2 separate regions of the Homo sapiens genome follow, and region 1 is linked to region 2. Evidence: fine-mapped expression QTL. Tissue or cell type: whole blood. Region 2 holds a variant in brackets; the other region holds the start of a gene. All regions are shown on one strand. Distances are from middle to middle.

The links. PIP is the estimated chance that this variant, and not a neighbour inherited with it, causes the effect.
Region 1: HACD3 starts here. The variant in region 2 is fine-mapped to the expression of HACD3 in whole blood (TOPMed, PIP above 0.99).

What each region holds. Positions count from the first base shown.
Region 1 is chr15:65,526,262-65,534,261 of GRCh38, reverse strand. HACD3 (3-hydroxyacyl-CoA dehydratase 3) reads right to left here and starts at 3,799. Exons shown (of 11, transcript NM_016395.4): 1 at 3,544-3,799. The coding sequence starts at 3,630. RefSeq lists a silencer at 3,717-3,936 and an enhancer at 4,975-5,475.
Region 2 is chr15:65,678,255-65,688,839 of GRCh38, reverse strand. All of the region lies in intron 23 of DENND4A (DENN domain containing 4A), which reads left to right. Among named protein-coding and RNA genes, the nearest start is that of SNORD13E, 13 kb to the left of the region's middle. The variant G/A (reference allele first, on the strand shown) is at 3,287.

The DNA.
Region 1 (8,000 bases), 150 kb after region 2:
TGGAACTTAACACTTTAAAACTCACACTTACACATAAGCTGTGGGTCATGCTATAGAAAGCAGAGAGTGTTAAAGTGCTGTCCAAGAACCCCACACCTAGCTTAATGATAGACAAGAGTAGGTACTCCATAAACGATTTTTACTGAACAAATAAATGAAGTGCTTCATCCAGAGCCAGAACCACTGGTTTCTTTTCTTTTTTTTTTTTTTTGAGACGGAGTCTCGCTCTGTCCCCCAGGCTGGAGTGCAGTGGCGCAGTCTCGGCTCACTGCAAGCTCCACCTCCCGGGTTCACGCCATTCTCCTGCCTCAGCCTCCTGGTAGCTGGGACTATAGGCGCCCGCCACCACGCCTGGCTAATTTTTTTGTATTTTTAGTAGAGACGAGGTTTCACCGTGTTAGCCAGGATGGTCTCGATCTCCTGACCTCATGATCCGCCCGTCTCGGCCTCCCATAGTGCTGGGATTACAGGCATGAGCCACCACACCCGGCTGCTTTTCTTTCTTTTTTTTTTTTTTAAATAACAAATCTGCACATGTAAAACCACTGGTTTCAACAGGCCCTGCATAGAGCAATCAGTTGAGAAAGAAAAAAAAAAGGCAACCCGTGACACTCCAGAAGCAGGCATAGCACTCACAGCCAGGCCATGTTATTCTCCTATGGGACATAAACAATCTCACAGAATACCAACCTCAGACAAGGTTACTCTGAAATCCTCATAAAATGAGACAAAGGCCATTTCACAATTTTGTTATAAGCACAGACAAATACATAGTGGCTATGCCACTCACGAAATACCAAACACCCTTTGGCCAAATTGAGTGACTGCTACTCCTGTAGCAATTACAGTTTTGTTCTTATACTAGTCTCCCTGCCCTACAGGTAAGATTTATTCAGATACCCAACCACGAAACTCCCATATTTTCTTACAGGATCTTATCTGAAGTGAAACCCAACCTCCTTAACCCTCCCCTCCCCTAATCACCAACACCCAAATCCTATAATCAGTTCTAACACCCTCCTAATGAAACACCCCAGGGTTCCCCATGGAGTATGCTCTCTCAATGCAATGAGTAATAAACCCAACTTGTTTAACTACGGGTGTGTTATTGGTGGCCTTTGGGCATTGACACGGCTTAAGTCAGAGATTACAAGTGTCTAAAAGTCTATGCCTTTCTCTTTCTGGAACATTCTCCCAGTCTTAGTTTGACAAAAATAATTCTCATTTCTGGAAGTCATCACTAACTAAATGAAAGAAAGGTAACAAATTCCTTTAACACCAGATACCTGGTTCAACATCCAACTCCAATTCTACCAATAAACATACTCCTACACAAAACTTTTTGTTTGTATATGATACGCCTCCTTCTAGATAGCATGCCCTTGAAAAGCTGGGTCTGACTCACCTTTGTAAATCTGTACTACCTTACATGTGTTAGAGGATTGCTAACACATGTAAACACTCTTTTATGAGGGTAACATCATGCTTTTAAACTAATGGTAGTTGAAATATGGGTGCCTCAAAACTACAGATGTGAAACCCCAGAGAAAACAAAAACTCAATAAGGGGGAAAAATGATTTATTTTTCCCCAAAAATTTTTAGATGGTTACTTTTTTTTTTTTTTTTTTGAGACAGAGTTTCACTCTTGTTGCCCAGGCTGGAGTGCAATGGCACCATCTCAGCTCACCGCAACCTCCGCCTCCCGGGTTCAAGCAATTCTCCTGCCTCAGCCTCCCGAGTAGCCAACATAGTGAATTACACGCATGCACCACCATGCCCGGCTAATTTTGTATTTTTAGTAGAGATGGGGTTTCTCCATGTTGGTCAGGCTGGTGTCGAACTCCTGACCTCAGGTGATCCTCCCGCCTCGGCCTCCCAAAGTGTTGGCATTACAGGCGTGAGCCACAGCACCTGGCCTGTTCCGTACTTTTTTATTGACTGCTGGAAGAACCCTCTCTAGACGGGGACTTTGATCCCCATCTACAAAAGATTTTGTTTGTTTTTTCCTATTCTATTAAACCACCGTGGAGCAGTAGAGGGAGACAGCACAGAACATTTACTCATACTCTGACCCAAAAGTATAGCCTCAGTCTGGATGAACACATTAAACGACACACCATGCAATGTCATAGCCTATTTAAAGGCATTCTGGCCACTACTGTCTTCATCTTTCAACAGGAAAACTGTTTATATTCCAGAAGCAAAGATTATATTAAATTCAATAAATTCAAGTCGACACTCAGAAAGCACCTACATTTTACCGGATCCACGGGTGATCCAAGCAGATGCCTGTTCAGAGGCAGAGAGAGTTAAATGGAGTGAAAGAGATGACAAAGTGCCATAGATGTTAAGGAGAAGTTTCCAATAAGAATGACTGTAGAAAGAACCTTCCAGAGGCTGGGCGCGGTGGCTCATGCCTGTAATCCCAGCACTTTGGGAGGCCGAGACGGGTGGATCACCTGAGGTCAGAAGTTCGAGACCAGCCTGGCCAACATGGTGAAACCCTGTCGCTACTAAAAATACAAAAATTAGCCGGGCATGGTGGCACGCGTCTATAATCCCAGCTACTCGGGAGGCTGAGGCAGGAGAATCCCTTGAACCCGGGAGGCAGAGGTTGCGGTGAGCCGAGATCGCGCCATTGCACTCCAGCCTGGGCGACAAGAGCGAAACACCGTCTCAAAAAAAAGAAAAGAAAAAAAAAGAAAGAAAGAAAGAAAGAACCTTCCAGAATGAAAATTCCAGTTTCTCAAAGCCCAGAATCTTTAGTTTGGACAGAGACATGAGGATACACAGGTCCTGGAGTCTCCACTACTACGTGCCTTCAGCTTGCTTACATTAAGGGCCAAGGAGCTCAAACAGAAATGCTTAATGTAACTTAAGAACTTTTTAAGTTCTCTGTGCAACTCAGCAAACCTGAGCTCACAACCTTCAGAACAGAGGGGGAAATCACTTCCTCCAGCTCTTGTGAATTTTAAAATTAAAAGTAATGAGAATGATTTCCATCACTGAACGGTTGCGAGGTGGGTGTGGCCCCCCACCCCTCCCCCTCCCCCACCTCCGGCAGCGCCCAGCCTCAGTAACGTCCGAGGGGCCTGGCTGGACCTCTCAGGCCAGCGGCAGGCATTCAGCTACGGCCCAGCAAGCCGCTGTCACAACCGCACCCCTGACCCAACAAGCTCATCCCACATCTCGAAGGGCCCCAGCCAACTCGAACCCCGACGGCCAGGCAGCCAGGGCCGGGCCTGGGCTCCATGAAGGCCGCCGACTGCGAACAAAGAAGAGGCCCGGGGTAGCCTGAGAGGCCCAGGCCGAGCTCTCTGGGGACCCGAAGGTTCCTGCAGCCCTCGGGGGGTTGTGCCCCCGGCCCGAGATCTGCAGATGAGCCTCGAAAAGCGCCAGCACGCCGTAAGCGCACCGCGTCGCCGACCTTGTTGGCGCACTGCAGGCTCTCCGGCGCGCACGCGGACAAAGGGGGCAGGGGTCCTGGCGGGTACCCGGAGCCGCGATCCCGCGCGCTTCCCGCCGCCCGACCCGGCCTTTACCTGTACGTCACTCAGCTCCACGCGCAGATATAGCTCGCGGTGTCGCTGAGCCCAGTAGACATGCGGCGTCAACACCTGATTCTCCATGGCCACACTGCCCAGGGCGCGGGGAGGCTAGGCTCGCTGCGCCTCGCTGCCTCAGGTAGTGCTCTGCTGGCGCGAGCAGAAAGCAGGCCTCAAACCCTAGCGCTCCTGAGCGCCTGCAACCCGGCACCTCGAGATACCCCACGCTCGCGGGCCGCGCCTGCGCAGTGACGCGCCGGGATGGCGGCGGCGCCAGCAGCGGGCCTTGGCGCGAGCCGGGCGGGGGCGGGGCGCAGGCGGGATAGGGGCAGGCCGGGGCACAGAGACGCCGCAGCTCGCCGCGGCCGCCTAGGGAATTGGAATCAGCGGGTGGTCTGCTCTCCCCACTCGTCTTCAGGGACATGCTTTAAAATAAGCTTTAAAATAAAAAAGGCTGGAGACTTATGGGGGACCGATCAGCCTGGAAAAGGGTTTGGGACTGGTGTCTCTGGACGGTCCTTCGCATTCTGTTTACTGAGTACCTACTGTGTGCCTGGGTTTCAAAGCTAAACACTGGAACAACAGAAGTGAGACACAGTCCCTTCTGTCTTAGAACTCCCAGCCTATTAAAAGATGCAAGTAATTACAGATGAAATGAGGATAATAATGGTGATAGGGGACATGGTGTGGGAGCAGCGTGGAAGAGCGTTCCAACAAGGGAAAATAAAGACCAGGGCAGCGCTGCCCAATAAAACTGTAGGTGATGATGGAAATATTGCACATTGCGCTCTTTAATACGGTAGCCACTAGCCACATGAGGCTTTTGAGTACTTGAACTGAATAACCGAATTTTCAATTTTACTCACTTCTGTTTTTTTTTTGTTGTTGTTGTTGTTTTGTTTTGAGACGGAGTTTCTCTCTTGTTGCCCAGGCTGGAGTGCAATGGCGCGATCTCGGCTCACCGCAACCTCTGTCTCCCGGGTTCAAGTGATTCTCCTGCCTCAGCCTCCCGAGTAGCTGGGATTACAGGCATGCGCCACCGGCTAATTTTGTATTTTTAGTAGAGACGAGGTTTCTCCATGTTGGTCAGGCTGGTCTCGAACTCCCGACCTCAGGTGATCCGCCCGCCTTGGCCTCCCAAAGTGCTGAGATTATAGGCGTGAGACACCGCGCCCGGCCAACTTTATTCACTTCTAATTTAAACTTAAATATCCATATTTTTGGTGGCTATTCTATTGGACAGTGCAGGAGACTGTCTCAAAAAAATAGGAAACTCAAACTAGAGACAACACTCATTTATGTCTTACTTAAGCTGTCTTGTCTGTATCGGGTTTCATCCCCAAGTTCTTCTGCAGAGAAGAATTTAATGGGAAGAAATATTTATATGAAAACTAGAACTCTGGGACAAAAATGGAACTCATATTCAATCCTGTTAGCTCCCATTTATTTAGCAAAGTGATTCTATTAGCACCCGTTTGTTTAGCAGAGGGATCTAACGCTGAAAACAAATTCTGCTAGCTCTCTGGAAACATTTAGCTCAAGAGTGGACAGAATAAAATATAGAGAGTTTTCATATAATGAATGTGCTGAGCTCACAAAGAGTTTATGATGATAGGAACTGAGGGCCGTGGGAACCATTGTCAGACATTTGAGAGCCAACCCTTGAGAACGGGATGGTGAAATGCGAGTAGGAATTTGACTGAGTAAGAACCAGGTAGGCCGTGGAAGCACAGGGCGCTTGCTTCGTTCACAGGTGAAAAGATGTGGACCAGGTGCAGCGTCTCACGCGTGTAATCCCAGCACTTTGGGAGGACGAGGCGGGAGGATCGCTGGAGCCCAGGAGTTTGAGACCAGCCTGGGAAAAATGGCAATACACTGTCTCTACAAAAAATACAACAGTTAGCAGGGCGTGGTTGGCGCGCCCCTGGGGTCCGAGCTACTCGGGAGGCTAGGGTGGGAGAATTGCTTAAGCCCAGGAGGCGAGATCGCGCCACTGCACTCCAGCTTGGGTGACAGTGTGAGGCCCTGTCTTAAAATTTAAAAAAGAGAGAGGGTTGTGGAAGGAGGTTCTGCTGCTAGGGATTAAAGGCATAGAGGAGAGAGGTCGCCCTGAATCTGGAAAGGCAGAGGGTGCATTAGGAAAGTCTTTGTTTGCTTCACTGAGGTGCCTATACTGTATCCCACAGACACATGGGAGCCAAGGAAGTTTGTTAACCTGGAGATTAGTAAAATCAAATGTGCTCAGCAAGAAAGACCTGTCAGAGAGGAGGAGGAATTGGTAGTAGGCAAAGCAATGGGAGACCAATGCAATCTGCCAAGAATGAGTTGATGAAAGCAGTGACGTTGACAGTCTTGAATTTTAACGATAAAATATTTTTTATGATAAAGGTATTTTATTGTATTGTGTTTACTACAATGCAGATGCAATATGGGGCACTTTTTAAAAACATTGAGATGTAGTTTACATATAGAACATGGGTAAATCTTAAATATTCAGTTTAAGCTGAATTTTTCTATATGTATATATCCATGTAATTATCACCTAGATCAAGATCTGGAATATTTCCAGTATCCCAGAGGTTATTTCATGTTAAAATATCTTTGCCTCTCAGTAATTACTATCCTGATATATCACCATAGAGTCTTTTTTGTCTGTTCTGTTCTTGAATTTTATATAAATGGAACCTACAGTGTCTGGTTTCTTTTTCTTTTTTCTTTTTTTTTTTTTTGAGACAGAGTCTTGCTCTGTCACCCAGGATGGAGTGCAGTGGTGCAGTCTCGGCTCACTGCAACCTCGGCCTCCCAATTCAAGCGATTCTCCTGCCTCAGCCTCCCAAGTAGCTGGGATTACAGCTGTCCGCCATCACGCCCAGCTAATTTTTGTATTTTTAGTAGAGACGGGGTTTCACCATGTTGGTCAGGATGGTCTCTAACTCCTGACCTCGTGATCTGCCTGCCTCAGCCTCCCAAAGTGCTGGGATTACAGGCATGAGCCACCGTGCCTGGCCCCTAATTTTTGTATTTTAGTAGATACGGGGTTTCACCATCTTGGCCAGGCTAGTCTTGAACTCCTGACCTCATGATCCACCCGCTTCAGCCTCCCAAAGTGCTGGGATTACAGATGTGAGCCACCGCACCGGGCCTTGGTTTCTTTCATCAACATAATGTGTATGAGATTTATCCATGTTGCTGAGTGAATCAGTAATTCATTCTTTTAGTTTTTGGTTTTGCTCTGTAGTAGTTGACTATATGAGTATACCACAAATTATTTATCCATTCTCCTATCGATGGATATTTGTGTTGTTTCTAGTTTTTAGCTATTACAAATAAAGCTGCTCTGAATATTTGTGTACCTGTCTTTTGGGGATAAATGCTCTTAATTATCTTGGAATAAATACCTATGAAGGGAATTGCTAGGTTACACAGGTGTATGATTAGCTTTAGTAGGTGTGCTAAGCAGTTTTACAAAGTGTTTTGGTCAATTTACATTCCACGGCAATGTTTGAAAGTTCTAGTTGCTCTATATCCCTAGTATTTTCAGACTTTTTAATTTAATTTTATTTTATTTTATTTTATTTTATTTTTTGAGAAAGAGTCTTGCTCTGTTGCCCAGGCTGGAGTGCATTGGCGCGATCTCAGCTCACTGCAACTTCTACCTCCGCAGTTCAAATGATTCTCCTACCTCAGCCTCCCAAGTAGCTGGGATTATAGGTGTGCACCACCACACCTGGCTAATTTTTTTATTTTTAGTAGAGATGGGGTTTCACCATGTTGGCCATGCTGGTCTCAAACTTCTAGGCTCAAATGGTCTCAAACTCCTGGGCTCAAGTGATCCTCCTGCTGCAGCCTCCCAGGCGTGAGCCACAGCACCCAGCCTAATTTTTTTTTTCCAGCACCACCCCCACCCCCAGCCAATGTTTTTAATTTTAGCCATCCTGGTAGGTGGGTAATAAAAAATAGAATAATTTTAATTCAGCGTATTTGAAACCTGAGGCTTATCAGCTGACTTCTACCAAGGTGAAAGCTATTGATATAGAAGAAGACTGAATGTTGGCATTTTGCCTCAGATGCTTCATAAGAAAGGTCCAGTGGAAGTGGGCCTATCCAGCCTGGTTTGACCACTAGTAACATACTGCAAAATGACTTCTTTAGGCCTGAGTTTCCACATTCATCAAATTAGGTAAATTTGATGAGTTGGATTTGGTTCCCTCTAATGCTCTTATCAGCTGTTTCTAAATTTTTCTGCAAAGAGACCCCACTATTATGGACCCCTCTCTGCAAGAGAAATCTAACAAGAAAAAAAATAGAAATGGAGAGAAGAAAGAGTATCATTCTGGTGAACTATAAAACTCCAGGGTGGGGCTGGACATGGTGGCTTATGCTGTAATCCCAATGCTTTGGGAGGCTGAGGTGGGAGGATCGCTTGAGTTTAAGAGTTCGAGACCAGCCTGGGC
Region 2 (10,585 bases):
GCAGGCAGTTTCTGGGGAGAGACCAACACAGAAATGAGTTTATCATTTCCTTTCCTCATGCATCTTTGCCCCAAGGGCAGTCACATCATGGCATGGCACCTCTGGCAGATAAACTTCAAGAGAAACCCCATATTTCCTGAACAGAGAAGCCTGAGAAAGAGGCCTCTTTGTGCAGAAAGTTTGAGGGGAATCCCATACAAGTTTCACCCTACCCCTTGACCTGCACAGTTATGGGACAGATGCAAACTGGAATAGAAAAGGCTTAAGTAACTGAACTGCAAGTTCACTGCCTACAAAAAGTAAAACACAAATTACAGTCTGAATATAACTCAAGTGTTTGCCTGCTGAAACAAGAGCATCAACAATCTCGGAAGTATTATAACAGTACCCAGGCTACATAACATAATATTCAGTGTCCAAGATAAAATCCAAAATTACTTGGTATAAAGGACCAGGAAAATGTGACCAGTTCTCAAGGAAAAGACAACTCCAGAATGACTCAGATGTTGGAAGTATCAGGGAAAAACTTTAAAGCAGCTTCCATAACTGGTTCCTTTAGGTAAAGGAAAACACATTTGAAATAAATTAAAATAAATTCTAGCAAGAAATAGAATGTATTAAAACAAATTTTATAACTGAAATATAATCCAATGTAAACTGATCAAATGGGTTAAATAACAGAATGGAGATGACAATGAAAAGTAAACTTAAAGATACAGTAATAGAAATTAGAAGAAGAGAGAAAAGATTTTTATAAAAATAAACAGCCTCAGGGACTTGTGTGACAATATCAAAAGGAACAAATGAAATATGGATAACTGGAGTTCCAGAAGAACTGAAGAGAGATTCTGTTAGAAAAGATATTTGAAGATTTGAAAAAATAATGGCTGAAACCTCCAAAATTGGTAAAAGATACAGATTTATAGATACAAGAGACTCAGCAAATTACAGACAGAATTAAACTCAAAACCACACTTGCACACATCAAAAGTAAACTAAAAATCAGAGATATTCACCTGCTAACAAGAAAACGGCTGCTAAAAAAAAATTAAAATACACTGAAAGCTGTTAAAAAATTATTCATTACCTACGGAGCCATAAAGATTTGAATGTACCCATGCACTTTTCATCACAATCCTTGGAAGAATTTAGTGGAATGGTGCCTTTAACGCATTGGAAGAAAAGACCTGTCAACTCAGAATTTTATATCCAGTGAAAATATTCTTCATGGGTGAAGGTGAAATAAAGACATTTTCAGATAAAATAATTCATGAGCAATGGGATTGCTCTATGAGATATGCTGAAGGAAGTTATTTAAACTGAAGAAAAATGATACCAAAGAGAAACCTGCATCTTCAGGAATAAAATAAATGCAAAATAAATGGTAAATAGCTGGTTATTAGAAAAGATTACTTTTTTGCCTCCTAAACTGAAAAAAAAAGAAAAGAAAAACCTATAATTGTCCAAAACAAAAATAGTAACATTATCTCATGGAATTTTAAATATGCATAGATGTTTGACAGTAGTGAACATCAGTAGTAAAGGAACTTACCCCACAGACCTTCATTATAGTTATATTATTAAATATGAAATGATATAAAACTAACTCCAAGTAGACTTTAAATGATTAGATATGTATATTGTAATCCCTGGAGCACTGAGTTAAAAAATACAGTGAGATGTAGCCAAAAAGCCAATAAAAATATTCAAATAGTCTTACAGAGAACAGGAAATCTTAAAGAGGCCAAGAAAGGGGGAACAGAGAAATAGACTAGATCTAACCATATGAATAATTAAATGATAACAATCTAAACACCTCAATTAAAAGGCAGACTTTGGCTAGGCATGGTGGCTCATGCTTGTAATCCCAGCTCTCTGGAAGGCCAAGCCAGGAGGATTGCTTGAAGCCAGGAGTTTGAAACCAGCGTGGGCAACATAGCAAGACCCTGTCTGTACAATTTTTTTTTTTTTTTAATTTTAACTAGCTGGCCATGGTGGCACATACCTATGTAGTCCTAGCTACTCAGGAGGCTAAGGCAGGTGTGTTGCTTGAACCCAGAAGTTCAAGGCTGTAGTGAGCTATGATTGTGCCACTGCACTCCAACCTGAGCAACAGACTGATCTCATAATAATGAGGAGTTGGATGTTATGGTGTGTTCCTGTAGTTCCAGCTACTCAGGAGGTTGAGGTGGGAGGTCTGGATTGCTTGAGTCCAGGAGTTCTAGGCCAACCAGGGCAGCATAGCAAGACTTTGTCTCTGAAAAATATTGATTATAAGAAACAGTTCATCAGGAAGACACAATAATTATCCATGTATATTCACTAAATCACAGAGCCTCAAAACAATGACACAATTGGTAGAATTAAGGGGAGTTCTAAATCTGAGTAGGAAATTTAAAAACGCTCAGTTGATAGAAGAGGTAACAAAAATTGGTCAAGACAAATCTCAGCAACACAATCAGCTACTTTTATATAATTGACATTTATAGAATATACACTCAACAACTACAGAATACACTATTTTCAAGTGTATACAGTACAGTCATCAAGATAAACTATGTTTGGCTATTTAAAAAACCTCAGTCAATTGAAAAGGATCCAAATCAAAGTACATTGTAAAGAGTTACAGAACATTACTGAGGGATTTTAAAAGAGATTTAAATAAATGGAGAGACATGCCATGTTCATGGAATTGAAGACTCGGTATTGTTAAGCTGCAACCCTCCCTACATTGGCATCTAAATGTATATCAAAATTGCACCTATCAAAATTCTAGCAGGATTTTGTAGAATTTGACAAGCTGATCCTAAAATTAATATAGAAAATAGAAGGACCCAGCATAGCCAAAACAATTTGGAAAAAGAAAAAGTTGGAGGACTCACACTTCCCAATTTCAAAATTTACTACAAAGCTACAGCTATCAAGACTGTGCTGCTAGCATAAACAGAGATGAATAGATGAGAGAATAAAATTTAGACTCCAGAAATAAACTCTTATGTTTATGGTTATTTAAATTTCAATAAAGATGCCAAGGCAATTCAATGGGGAAATGATAGTTTTTGTCAAAAAATGGTGCTGAGATAATTGGATATCTGCATGCAAATACAGTCAGACTTCTGTATCTGCAAGTTCTGCTTCCATGGATTCAACCAACCACAGATTGAAAATATTACATAAATACAAATAATACAGTATAAGAACTATTTACATAGCATTTACATTGTATTAGGTATTATAAGTAACCTAGAGATGATTTAACTTGTACAGGAGGATGTGCATAGGTTAT[G/A]TGCAAATACCAACCCCCTGTGGATACTGAGGGATGACTGTAGGTGAATGTAGACACTCAACTTATATACAAGCATTAACACAAAAAGGATAAGATGTCTAAATGTAAGAGCTAACACTATAAAAATTGTGGGCTGGCGGTGGCTCACGCCTGTAATCCCAACACTTTGGGAGGCCAAGGCAGGCGAATCACGAGGTCAGGAGATCTAGACCATCCTGGCTAACACAGTGAAACCCCGTGTCTACTAAAAATACAAAAAATTAGCCGGGCACGGTGCCAGGCGCCTGTAGTCCCAGCTACTCGGGAGGCTGAGGCAGGGAAATGGCGTGACCCCGGGAGGCGGAGCTTGCGGTGAGCTGAGATTGCGCCACTGCACTCTGGCCTAGGCGACAGAGTGAGACACGGTCTCAAAAAAAAAAAAATTGTGGGCGGGGCGTGGTGGCTCATGCCTGTAATCTGAGAACTTTGGGAGGCTGAGGCGGGCAGATCCCCTGAGGTCAGGAGTTTAAGACTAGCCTGGCTAACATGGTGAAACCCCCGTTTCTACTAAAAATACGAAAGATTAGCCAGGCATGGTGGTGCATGCCTGTAATCCCAGCTACTTGGGAGGCTGAGGTAGGAGAATCGCTTGAAGCCCGGAGGCGGAGATTGCGGTGAGCCAAGATCGCGCCATTGCACGCCAGCTTCAGCAACAAGAGCAAAACTCCGTCTCAAAAAAAAAAAAAAAAAAAAAAATTGGAAGAAAATATAGGAAGAAAATCTTTTAAGACCTTGAATTAAGCCAAGAATTCTTAGGTATGATACCAGAAACAGTCTATAAAAGGAAAAATTGATAAGTTAGGCATTATCAAAATTGAAGACTTTTGTGATCCAAAAATGAAAATGTAAGAAAATGAAAAGCCACAGACTGGGGAAAAGATACGCAAATTCTGTATTTAGTAAAGGACTTGAATCCATAATATACAAACAACTCACACAGCTCAATGATAAGATAAACAACCCAAGTTAAAAATAGATCTAAATAGATATTTCACCAAAGAAGAGATATTAATGGACGAAAAGCACATGAAACATGTTCAACATAATTAGTTATTAGGCATTAATTGCATTTGGAGCCACAGTGAAATCCCATTTCACACTCACTAGAGGAATGGCTATAATCCAAAAGATGATGACAAGTGGAGGGGATGTGGAGAAATGGGAACCCTCATACTTTTTTGGTTGGGAATGTAAAATGGTACAGCCACTTTGGAAAACAATTTGGCAGCTTCTTTAAAAGCTAAGCATTAATTTAACATATGACCCAGCAGTTCCACTCTAAATAATCTACCCAAGAGAAATGAAAACATAGACTACACAAAGATTTTATGTGAATAATCATAACATTGTTCATAAAAGCCAAAAAGTGGAAACAACCCAAATTTCCGTCAACTGGAAAATAGGTAAAATGTGTTATACAGTGGAATATAATTGAGCAATACAAAAGAACGAAATACTGATACATGCCTTAAAAATTGGTGAACCTCAAATACATGTTTATTTTAAGTGGATTAAGCCAGATTTTAAAAGACCAAATATTGTATGAATCCATTGATATGAAATGTCCAGAAAAGGCAAATCTGTAGACACAGTATATTAGTGGTTGCCTGGTGTTAGGAAGGCAATGGAGATTAACTGTAAATGGGCATGAGGTATCTTACTGGGGTGGTAAAGATTTTCTAAAATTAGAAACGTTCTAAAAGTTGGTAAATTTACTACAAAGATTATTGAATTGTAGACTTAATATGAGTGAATGTTATGACATGAAAATTAAGCCCCAATAAGGTTTCTTTTAAATCAAGCATATTTTCTGACCACAATAGAATTCAATTACAAATCACTAAGAATAAGTAAGAGATCAAGAAAAACCTGAACACACTTTCAAATAATTTGAATCAAAGATAAAATCATAAAGGAAATTAGAATAATGTTTGAGTGGAATGAACAAAAATATATCAAAATTTGTGGGATACAACTAAGAGGTGCTTAGAGGTTAACTCATAGCTTTAAGTGCTGTAGTTAGAAGTGATTTAAAATTAATGATTTATGGTTCTGCCTTAAGAAACTAGAAAAAAAGAACAAAGTAAGCTCAAAGTAGGAAGAAGGAAGTAATAAACATGGAGCAAAAATCAGTAAAACTGAAAAGATGGAAAGCATAAGAATATCAATAAAACCAAAAGCTGATTCTTTAAAAAGAACAAAATTGACACACTGCTGGCTAGACTGATCTAGAAAAAGAGAACACAATCACTAATATCAGAAAGATCCCACCTAAAGATTAAAATAAATAATATTTTTAAAGCCTAGCGTAGGCAGGTCTCATTTTATTGCACTTGCTTTACTGCTCTACACAAATGTCATGCTTTTTACAAATTGAAAGTTTGTGGCAAACCTGTGTTGAGCAAGTCAATTGGTATCATTTTCCAACAGCGTGTGCTTACTTCATGTCTCTGTGTCACATTTTGGTAATTCTTGCAATATTTCAAACTTTTTTGTTATTATATCTGTTATGGTGACTTGTGATCCATGATCCTTGATGTTATTATTGTAATAGTTTTGAGACACCATGAACTGTTCCCATATAAGATGGTAAACTTCATCGATAAATGTTGTGTAATTTCTGACTGTCCACCAAATGGCCATTCTCCTGACTCTCTCCCTCTCCTCAGGCCTTCTTATTCCTTGAGACACAACAATATTGAAATTAGGCCAATTAATAACCCTACAGTGGCTTCTAAAGTGTTCACATGAAAGGACGAGTCACACATTTTTCACTTTAAATCAAAAGCTAGAAATGATTAAGCTTAATGAGGAAGGTATGTCAAAAGCCAAGAAAGGCCGAAAGTGAGGTCTCCTGCACCAAACAGCCAAGTTGTGAATGCAAAGGGAAAGTTCTTGAAGGAAATTAAAAGTGACATGAGTGATAAGACAGCAAAACAGTGTTATTGCCAAAAAGGAGAAAGTTTGAGTGGTCTGGATAGATCACATCAGCCACAATATTCCCTTAAGCTAAAGCCTAATCCAGAGCAAGGCCCTAACTAACTCTCTTCAGTTTTATGAAGGCTGAGAAAGCTGAGGAAGCTGCAGAAGAAAAGTTTGAAGCCAGCAGAGGTTGGCTCATGAGGTTTAAAGAAAGAAGCTGTCTCTATAACATAAAAGTGCAGGATGAAGCAGCAAGTGCTAATATAGAAGATGTAGCTAATTATCCCCGAGACCTATGTAAGGTCACTGATGAAGGTGGCTATACTAAACAACAGATTTTCAATGCAGATCAAACAGCCCTGTATTGGAAGAAGATGCCCATCTAGGACTTTGATGGAGAGAGAGGAAAAGTCAGTGTCCGGCGTCCAGGCTTCAAAGGACAGGCTGACTCTCTTGTTAGGGGGTAGTGTAGCTGGTGATGTTAAATTAAGCCAATGCTCATCTACCATTCTGAAAATCCTAGAATTTGCTAAAGCTACTCTCTGCCTGTGCTCTGTAAATGGAACAAAAAACCTGGATGACAGCACATCTGTTTACAACATGGTTTACTGAATGTTTAAACCCATTGTTGAGACCTACTGCTCAGAAAAAATATATTTATTTCAAAATATTACTGCTCATTGACAATGCACCTAGTCATGCAAGAGCTCCAATAGAAAAGCAGTTGCCAGGTGCAGTGGCTCACGCGTGTAATCCCAACGCTTTGGAAGGCTGAGGCAGGCGGATCCCTTGAGCTCAGAAATTTGAGACCAGTCTGGGCAACATGGCAAAACCCTGTCTCTACAAAAAATTAGCTGGGTGTGGTGGCACATGCCTGTGGTCCCAGCTACTCAGGAAGCGGAGGTGGGAGAATCGCTTGAATCTGGGAAGCGGAGGTTGCATTGGGCTGAGATGACTGTCTGTACTCCAGCCTGGCTGACAGAATTATACCCCCATCTCAAAAAAAAAAAAAACAAAAAAATGAAATGTCAAGGAGTCAAGTTGAATGATGAAAAAAGAAATGTCAAGGAGATTTATTGTTTTCATGCTAGTATTCATTCTGCAGCCCATGGATCAAGGAGTCGCTTTTACTTTTAACTTAGTATTTAAGAAATACATTTCATAAAGTTATAGCCATAATAGGTGGTGATTCCTGTGATGGATCTGGGCAAAATAAATTGAAAACCTTCTGGAAAGGATTCTCTTCTAGATGCAATTAATGGCATTCATAATTCACAGGAGGAGATCAAAATGGCAACATTAACTGGAGTTTGGAAGAAATAGATTCCAGTTCTCAAGGATGATTTTGAGGGGTTCAGGACTTCAGTGGAGGAATTATGCAGATATGGTGAAAATAGCAAAAACCCCTAGAATTAGAAGTGGAGCCTTGAGGATGTGACTTAATTGCTGCAATCAAATAATAAAACTTGAAGGGATGAGGAGTTGCTTCTAATGGATGAGCAAAGAAAGTTGTCAGACAGCATCACATGCTACAGAGAAATCTTTCTTGAAAGGAAGAGTCAATGGAGCAAACTTCATTATTATCCTCTTTTTTACCACAGCCACTCAACCTTCAGCAGCCACCACTCTGTTCAGTCACCAGCCATCAATATCCAGGCAAAACCCTCAACCAGCAAAAAGATTACCACTTGCTGAAGGTTCACATAATTGTTAGCAATTTTTAGTAATAAGGTATTTTAAAATTTATGTGCATTTTTTAGACATAATGCTGTTGTACAGTAGACTTCAGTGTAATGTGAACAACTTTTATATGCACTGGGAAATAAATTTGTGGTTTGCTTTATTGCGACATTTGTTTTGTTGAGGTGGTCTGGAACTGAACCTGCCATACCTCCAAGGTAGGTCTGTACAGTGCCTTCATTGAAGGCACTAAATAAATGGTTATTGTTGCTATACTCAGTGAAATTTAGTCTCATTAATTTTTTTATGTATAAAGAATTTAATGTCTCTCAATGTAAAATCATTCTTTTTTATAATCTACTCAAACATGCATAATCTGTATTTTAATTAGAAAAATTCAACTATTCGTCTTATTTTTTATACTAAGTAATTCTTGTATGCATAAACAGCAACAAGACTTCTGGTTCAGGATGTTAAAATACATATCTGTATTCCCTCCTCCTCAAAATCCCATTAAAGTGACAGAAAAATAGGAGAATATAATAAATCCATCAAAGCAATGAAAGAAGAAAAGTATGCCATCAGGAGATGAGAAATTTTCATACCTTTCTGAAAATGAGAAAGCAAATGAAACTGGATTGATGAAAATGCCTGAATACAGAAAGTATAGCCTCCAAAGTAGTCATAAGAGAGATCAGCTACCAAGATGAGAACTGTTCTTGTGAATGAAGCCCAGGTGAGCAGGCAGAAGTATAAAATTACACAGCCAGGTAATTAAATTAAAAGACTACTTAAGGAATAGTTAGGCTAGGCGTTGTTTTTCCTCTTGCAGGAGTAGTTGTGAAAATGAAATACTCCAGCTCACAAAGGTATGAAATCTGTAAGTACTAAGAGTGAAGGAGAGATACCAAGGACAGGCATTGAGATGAGAAAGAAAGTAGGGTTAAAAGTAATTCCAAAATTTCATTATTAGCCCAGAGTTTTTTTAAGGAAGCCCCACTCTACTTAAAATATACTGAAGTACCCACCAACCAAAGTAAAACCTTCCTTTGTTTGGTCGCCCTGTACATTCTCTTCCAATTACCCATCCAGGCACTCTAAAGGGTGGCCTGCTTACAGACATGCTAACATTGAGCTCTGTCATTCAAGGGAAGGTCTGAGTTCAAGACTAGCCTGGGTAACATGGCAAAACCCCATCTCTAGAAAAAAAAAAAATTAGCCAGGTGTGGTGGTGCATGCCTGTGGTCCCAGCTGCTTGGGAGGCTGAGGTGGGAAGATTGCTTGAGCTCTGGAGGTGGAGGTTGCAGTGAGCCGTGATTGTGCCACTGTCCTCCAGCCTGGATGACAGAGCAAAACCCTACCTCAAAAAAATGTTTTTAATATCATAAAAAATAAAATGAAAAAAAGATGAAATAGAAGAACATTTAGTTAACTTGATAGAGTATCAAAAAACTATAGCAAACACCATTCCTAACTGAAATATTATAATTATTTCTTTTAAAGTGAGGATCGGGCCAGGTGTGGTGGCTCACACCTGTAATCCCAGCACTTTGGGAGGCCGAGGCGGGCGGATCACAAGGTCAGGAGATGGAGACCATCCTGGCTAATATGGTGAAACCTCATCTCTACTAAAAATACAAAAAATTAGCTGGGCGTGGTGGCATGCACCTGTAGTCCCAGCTACCCGGGAGGCTGAGGCAGGAGAATCACTTGAACCTGGGAAGTGGAGGGCGGAGGTTGCAGTGAGCTGAGATGGGGCCACTGCACTCCAGCCCGGGTGACAGAGCTAGACTCTGTCTCAAAATAATAATAAAATCATAAAGTCAGGATCAAGGGAAGGAAGCATGCTGAACACCTGTGCCACCCAACAGCATTCTGGATTCTAACAATACCAGAAGGCAAGGAAAAGAAGTAAGAGATAAAGCCCAGGCATGGTGGCTCATCTTGTAATCCCAGCACTTTGGGAGGCCAAGGCAGGCATATCACTTGAGTCTAGGAGTTCAAGACCAGCCTGGGCAACATGGTGAAACCCTGTCTCTACTAAAAATACAAAAAATTAGCCAGTCATGGTGGTGTGCACCTGTAGTCCCAGCTACTTGGAAGGCTGAAGTGGGAGGATCACCTGAGCCTGAGGAGTCGAGGCTGCTATGAGCTGTGATCACATCACTGCACTCCAGCCTGGGTGACACAGTGAAACTGTCTCAAAACAAAAAATGATAGATAAAAATGTTGTAAAAGAATTTAATAAAACTTGATATTCTCATAAATGAGGTTATCTACTACCACTGAAAAACTGTTTGAACTGGTAAGGTGGCTAGAAACAACAAACATTTGTAAAACAGCTTTCCTGGATATGACAATAGCCAGTTAGAAAAGTAATGGAAAAATATGAGCTAATTCACTAGAACACAAACATGAAATGTCTAGAAGTAAACTTCAGTGTATAATACCTACATGAATAAAACTATAATACTTTACTGAAGGACATAATTTACTGATGGATTCAGTCTTGTAAAGGTATCAGTTCTAACCAAATTAGTCAGGGTAGTCTAATTAAAATACAAGAAAAAAAAGGCAAACCAAATACCTGGTGACTAAATAATACAAATCATAATTAGCTGCTTTAAAATTGATAGAGAAGATACATGAGAATAATCA